Homo sapiens: one gene and its partner. The protein of the gene in region 2 interacts with the protein of the main gene of each other region in a biochemical or structural test. Each region holds a gene or a part of one and is shown on either strand. Other genes may lie near its edges.

What was found.
Region 1: the proteins of GPSM2 (region 2) and GNAI3 form a complex in vitro, tested with the Homo sapiens proteins (one study listed by BioGRID).

What each region holds. Positions count from the first base shown.
Region 1 is NC_000001.11:109,590,086-109,593,911, reverse strand, and holds part of GNAI3 (guanine nucleotide-binding protein G(i) subunit alpha-3), read right to left. Parts: intron 1,870-3,826; coding exon 1,679-1,869; 3' UTR 1,657-1,678; intron 1,568-1,656; 3' UTR 1-1,567. UniProt on the Homo sapiens protein: Heterotrimeric guanine nucleotide-binding proteins (G proteins) function as transducers downstream of G protein-coupled receptors (GPCRs) in numerous signaling cascades.
Region 2 is NC_000001.11:108,883,223-108,887,048, forward strand, and holds part of GPSM2 (G-protein-signaling modulator 2), read left to right. Parts: intron 1-2,052; 5' UTR 2,053-2,300; coding exon 2,301-2,356; intron 2,357-3,826. UniProt on the Homo sapiens protein: Plays an important role in mitotic spindle pole organization via its interaction with NUMA1. Required for cortical dynein-dynactin complex recruitment during metaphase. Plays a role in metaphase spindle orientation.

The DNA of each region.
Region 1 (3,826 bases), 710 kb from region 2:
AATCCAAAAAGATTGGACCCCAAAAGGCACTGCCCAAACTACTGATTTGAAATGCTCAAAATGCATTCTCTTCATTTGTCTTCCCCCAATAGAGCATTCAATATTTAATGACATTTGCTGTACATTATACAAAAGGGTCTGTAGGTTGAAGTGAACGTAACTTTCCACACAAGCAAAATGTAAATCTGCAAAATGAATCATGATCACATATCACTCATATGCAGATATAACATAAAACCTAAGGTTCAACAATACTATTACACCAAAAGACTAGACTTTCAGGAAACCCTTCTACCTAAACCCATTCTCAGACAAAGGCTAAAGCACATTCTGCAAAGGCAAAAGGAAACAGAAGACAGTATTTCCAGAAAAGACTAGTTACAAACAGGAGCAAACCTGGGCTCTTTACTCACCATTTTAATACTGCCGCCAACTATAACAGATTAAAAATGTACACATGACAAAGTGGAAAAAAGTCCCAAAATGCAACAGTTTCAGCAAAAGAACATACTGGCTAAGGATTACTACAGTTAACATCGGTACAGTAAAAACGATGGCAAACAGGGATTTGGCACCACATTTACAAAGTAAAAGCATGCACTGTTAATACACTTTAGATGTTTCTCAACAGAAAAGGCCATGAAGATGGAAAACAAGAGGCACCATGTACAAAACTCCCTATAACTGAGACAAACAAGCAAGAATCAAAGTGGTCAATTTAGTAAATATGTAGCAGCAAAGTCACTGGTTCTGTTTGGAATTTAGCAATTTGCATTTCTGATTGGCAGCTGCCCTGGGTGTGTCTGTATCCAAGAAGCTGACTTTATCATACTACATCAGCAGTAATTTGGTAATCTGCACAAACAAGGTTAACCTTCAACCATAAGCTTAAAGAAAAGAGAGAACTAGAATCTTATTGCAGAACTTTCCAATGTAATTACCATATGGAAACCATAATGGTACTTTGAGCAGGATAATAACATAAATTTCATTTAAAAAGTTGTATTTATAGCCCCAGTAACCGGAAAGAATTATAAGTAATTATGGAAGTATTATATTCTGACCATACCAAGAGTTAAAAACAAAGAGTTCCTACTAAAGAGGAATATTTTCAAGATGATCTGGTCACATCATGTGCATAGTTAAGATTGTTTGTTTTAATAAAGATTCTTTTGCAAATAAAGAAATAAAATTTAGTAAAGTTATTCTTCTCTTGATGAAAAAACCTTAAAAATGAACCACTGGTGGTTTAAGAAGGGGGGAAAAAAAGAGTAAGCTACATATTGAAGTTCTAGAATGCAGCACCTCAACTTCACATCTTCCATAAGCATTTAAGATTAAGAAATCCAAGTGATGTCTTGACGATCGAATCACACTTTATAGTTCTTCCAATTCCAATGTCTGACTTTAGCATCTCATGTCAATTAAAAGTTCCCTAATACAAAATATTGTGCTAAAGAGTGCTAAGATTCTGCATGCTGCTGCCATTCCCTGGTCCCGTTCATGCTTGTAGCTGCCCCATGAGACAGCAAAAGGTGTCTGGTCTCAACACTCCACACTGTAGTAACTAGAAGAGAAGAATATTCTTAATTAGAAAAAGTTTAAAAACCAAGAGACATCACTGTAGCACTATAACTACCTTGTATGAAACTTTACCTTTCACTAACATCCATGCTTCTCAATAAAGTCCACATTCCTTTAAGTTGTTTTTAATGATGACATCTGTAACAGCATCAAAAACAAACTGCACATTCTTCGTGTCTGTGGCACAGGTGAAGTGAGTATAGATCTCCTTGGTATCTTTTCTTCTGTTCAGATCTTCAAACTGGCATTGAATATAGGCAGCTGCCTCTTCATATGTATTGGAACCTAAAACGGACACCCAGTACTCTCAGTTCAAATTGTAACAGCTGCCTGAACTCAACTAAGTCAGACCATTACCATTTACTTATGGAGAGGGAACATAACCCAATTAAATATGAGTAGAATTCTCTATTTCTATAATCATTAGGTGTTTCTATAATTAGGTTCTTCGTGAGAGTGGACTCTCATGGTAACAAAATAAAATCATCAAACACAAAGATTGAGGAAAACATAACGTTAAATTTCTCTTTACCTTTTCATTTAGACTTTTCAGCTAAAAAAATCTAGAAAGTATAAAAGGAAACTAGGAAAGTAGGAAGGTGCATTTCTAGGGAACACAACTGCTTAAAAGGTCTGAGAGAGGCTGTGTTCCTTGGAGTGATCTTGGAATAAAAATTCAACAGGGTAGTGCTTGCTTTGGTAGCACATGTACTAAAATTGGAACAATACAGAGAAGATTAGCACAGTCCCCGCGCAAGGATGACACGCAAATTCGTGAAGCGTTCCATATTTTTTAAAACAACTGGGTCGGATCATGCTAAAAGGAGATAATATTACTCTGCTACAAAGTGTCTCCAACTAGAAAGGATCAATGAAGTGAGAAATTGTTGAGAAGGATACAGTTTGCTTTTAGATGTCCTTTTTCCAATATGAACATTCATTCATAGTGTTTTGATTACCCTTATGTTACTAAAAGATGGCAATAAACGCTATGGGATTGTTTGTATTAAAACAAAAAAAAAAGGAATTCAACAAGGTAAATTGTTCTTTTCAAAATCATTCCACAGTTTTAAAGAGGTTTAGCTTCAAAGCCTTAAGGTAATAATTTAAATAAGGAAAAGCAATACACTTTAAAAGAGTGAATTTTAGGGTTTCCCAATTATATCTCAATGAAGCTATTATTTTTTACAAAAAGAAAGGTGACAGGAACCAAAAGCAAAGCCTGTCTCAACAATATTTGTAATTAATACCCTTAAATCACCTGCTTTTTACACCATCTTGTCTACTTATAGAACCTTTAGAGTAGCCTTAGAAACTGGCTATAAAGCCAGGGAAACGCAACAAAGACAATTCATTATTCCAATAAACTACAGGCTATTTTCAGTAACGTGAAGCATAACAAAAATATCAATAACAAAGATATAAAGAAGACCAGGTAACAAAACGGAGCTTAAGAAAAAAGGAGCTGGGTGCGGTGGCTCACATCTGTAATCCCTGCACTTTGGGGGCCGCAGCAGGTGGATCGCTTGAGGTCAGGAGTTCAACACCAGCCTGGCTAACTTAGTGAAACCACATCTCTACTAAAAATCAAAAAATCATTAGCTAGGCCTGGTGGTGGGCACCTGTAGTAGAGCTGAGGCACAAGAAGCACTTGAATCTGGGAGGTGGAGGTTGCAGTGAGCCGAGATCATGCCACTGCATTTCTGTCTGGGAGACAGAGCAAGACACTGTCTCAAAAAAAAAAAAGGAAAGGAAAAGAATATTAATTAAAATATTTAAAGAACTGAAGGAAAACAGCTTTGTAGGTGCTTGAAGCAGGTTCTTAAAATCTGGAAAACAACCTCTGTAAATTAAAGGAGGCAGATGAGTGAAAAGTGAATTTTGTCTGCTAGGAACAGATAATAATACCTGGCAAATAAGGACCGTAAGAATCTGTACACAGAATGAAGACAATGGAGGATAGGCTTGGAAGTTAACAACAACAAAGAAAATGGAAATGATATTAAAGGCTCTTTGCTTTGTGTGAAGACTCTAAGCTGGGCCTTCAACATTAATGCCAATTATTTTACTTGTCTTACATCTCTCTCCCCCAATCCTAAAACTTGGTTGCTTTCTATAAACTCACCTTATTCTCACCTCCCTCTGTTCTTTACTCTGAACAGGTAACCACATTTCCAACTTCCTTGATAAAACAGAGGCCATGAGGATTAAACTACATCTCAACTTTTTGGCCTACCACCTC
Region 2 (3,826 bases):
CTGTTTCTTTCTACCTTCCCTCCTTTCACCTTCTGCTCTGTTCCCTATTAACTTCTAGCTGTACTTAATTAACAGAGCAGTGAGTATTCATTAGTCTGGTTTATGATATAGCTGAAATACTTAAAAGGATGTTATATAGAAGAGGAATTAGGCTTTATTGTATATGGCAGCAGAAGGAAGAAGTAGAACAAATGGGTAGAAATGGAAGAATTGCTCAAAGTATGGAACGATTTTCTTACAGGAATATTCAAAATTAAGATTAGCTGCTTTATGACCTATGTAGGAATGCTATAGTAAGATAGTGGACTAACTGACCTCTAGGATTGTTTATAACACTGAGATTCCAGGACTTTATGATTGTATATCTACCAATTTATCTCATATATGTATATGTATATCCTTCTTTGTCTTTCTCAACTGTTATCTCAGAGGTTATAGTTTATGTCTGATATGCTGTAGCTCTCTCTAATGTATCGGTATGGATTCATTTTTATTTAAATATTCTCAGTCTTTATCACTGAAGATTTTACCTTTATTCCTCTCTTTTTCTTTCTCACCCTCCTATTAGATATATTATAGAGCTGCTCATTTTGTCCTCCTTTTCTCTGAACTTCTCTTTATTATTTTTCATCTGCTTATTCTTTCTTTAGCTGCTTAACTAGTACATTGAGGGTTTGTTGTTGTTGTTGTTGTTGTTTTGGTGGGGGCAGACAGAGTTGCACTGTGTCGCCTGGGCTGGAGCGCAGTGGCATAATCTTGGCTCACTGCAACCTCCGCCTCCCGGGTTCAGGCTCACTGCAACCTCCACCTCCCGGGTTCAAGTGATTCTCATGCCTCAGCCTCCTGAGTAGCTGGGATTACAGGCTTGCATCACCACACCTGGCTAACTTTTGTATTTTTAGTAGAGACAGGGTTTCACCGTGTTGGCTAGGCTGGTCTTGAACTCCTGGCCTCAAGTGATCACCTGTGTCTGCCTCCCAAAGTGCTGGGATTACAGGCATGAGCCATTGCACCTGGCCCTAACTAGTACATTGAGTTATTAATATCAGTGTTCATGGTAGTTTTTTGTTTCATTTTGTTTTGGGGCAGGGTCTTGCTCTGTCAACCAGGCTGGAGTGCAGTGGCATGAATATTAATACTGTTAGTAACAGCAATCCAAAAAACTATAATCCAAATGTCCATCAACAGCAGAATGAAAAATACATTTGGTATACAATGGAATATACATGCAAGTTGTAGCTATGCACAACAATTGAGAAAAATCTCAGAAACAACGTTCAGCAAAATCATATAAAACTAAATGGTATCTTATTTAGGACTATACTGACATTCGTGTTAAAGTTGTAAAGACAAGCAAAGGAATAAGGAACAAAATACAGTTTAGAAATCACCTTAGAGGGAAAAGGAAGGAGATGGGTTAGGTTGGACTACCCAGGAGACTTTAAAGGCAGGTAATGTTCTTATTTTAGACTGAATGGTGTTATATAAATGTTTGTTGTGTCATTCTTTTTACCATATACATATTTCCCAAATGTCTTTTGTACCTACCCAATATTAATAAAAAACATTTTAAAGACCTTAAAGAGTTTAAGTAGAATATATTTTGAAAGCAAATGAATCCAACTATAACCGAAGTATCAGTGTGATATCTTCTTTGAAGAAATAAATTTACTGAGTTTGGAGTTGACTATTTCAAATAATTATTGAATTTTCATTTGATTTGTTAATAGTAGTTTTTAAAAGTTTGAAGCAGCAATTTTGTTTTTAGATGCTAATATGATACATACTGTTCTTTTTTGTTTATAGCAGAAAATATTACATAAAAGTATTAAATTTCAAACATATTTTAAAAATTACAGTTCTCAAATCTCATCTATTCCCACCCCTATTTAGAAGCTCCATGATGACAGTTAAGCCCTGTGCTATCTTCTGTATTGATTGACATGACAGCAGTCTGCAGAGTTAGCTTGTGATTATGTACAGCTCAGGGTTACTGTAGGTTGTTCTTTGAAAATAGGACTTCAAGCAAAGCATCTTGTATTCCTTTTGCAGAAATGTTGCTGAAGTGCTGCTGAAAGGGCCAGAGATGCAAGGATTTGGGATACATTTTGAACCTTTAAGCTGTCTGACATTGACCTCCTTTCATTATTAATAAAGAAGAATCAGGAGCTTAGGATGTATTAACACCAACTCATTAATATACTAACCGGACAATGTTCTACAAACAATTCTACATTGTAAAGGACTGGATTGGCACAAAATAAAATAATTTTATTTTATTCAGCTTATAATATGACTCGATGGAGGAAAATTTGATAAGCATGAGAGAAGACCATTCTTTTCATGTTCGTTACAGGTAAGACTATTGCTGTCTTAATGGATGACTTTTAATCCTTATTTTAAAGTGTTTTTAACTCTGATGACCATTTCAAGTTTCAGTTGAAAATACTCAAATATACCAGCCATAGTATTGTCTGTAGACAATATTTTCTTTTTGTTGTAAGTTTTCCTTTCTGTAAGAAAATGATAGTAGAGACCAATTATGTACTATGGTTTGTTTAATGTTCTCTGGAAGAGTTTATGAATAATTTCTTTATAATTTGTAACTTTTTATGTAATGCAAATATGTAAATGAAATATGTTTGAAAATCTTTGGGGCTAAAAGGTGGATTTTTTAAAAATGTGGTCAGCTGAAGGACCAAACCTTTGCATTGTAATTTAATGTGATCTTTTAGACATGAACTTTTTATTTTTGATTTATTTTTATTTTTTGTAGTGTATTGTTTTGATTCCCTTCTCATTTCCTTTTTTTGTATATTTTTTATTTTATTAATTTTACTTTTTCTATATTATCAGAGATGGGAGTCTCACTATATTGCCCAGGCAAGTCTCAAACTCCTGGGCTCAAGCAATCCTCCTGCCTCAGCCTCCAGAGTAGCAGGAACTACAGGTGTGTGCCACTGCACCTGGCTTTTTATTTTATCTTTAAAGGAAATTTTATTTCACAACCATTATTACTGTTTTAAATATGTACCTAATCCACATTAATATAAATACATTATTATTAAAATACAAACAAGCGCTGTTCAAAAGAAATGTCATTTTTAAGCTTAATGTCTAGTGACATTTTGTGTTGTTTTGCTGATTTAATACTTAAGACCACATTTTTACATGAAGTAGTGGTTTGGTAATCCCTAATTTACTCCAGAAAGCAAGTCAGGCTGAGGAAAGGCACCCACATGCATTCTCTCACAAGCTTCACGGTCCCTAGGGAAATGGCCTGGCTCCTCTAGGACTTACAGTGTTCCCTTGGATGCCCAAATGGATTGTCTACATTCCTGGTAGAAGGTTGCAGATTGTAAGGACCAGTGTTCCCACCTTTGTTCTGCATCCACAAGTGTCTTTCACAAATACAACACACTCCCTTTGGCTACACCTTATATATAATAGGTTATGCACATGTATGTGTGTTGGTGGGGGTGGATGCTTCCCACTGATCTAGATCAGGATCCAAATCAGACATACACATCAGGAAAGGAGGGAAGATAGCCAGGAAGTGATAGCTGGGCAGAATGAAGGTACAGAATGGGCAGGTCTTCCTGATTTTTCAGAAGAGCCCAGGAAATCTGAAAATCTGAAGAGTGTGTGTGTGTGTGTTTTTGTGTTTTTGTTTTTTTTTTTTTGGAGACAGTCTCACTCTGACGCCCAGGCTGGAGTGCAGTGGCACGAGTTTGGCTCACTGTAACCTCCGCCTCCCATGTTAAAGCGATTCTCTTGTCTCAGCTTCCCGAGTAGCTGGGATTATAGGCGTGTGTCACCACGCCCA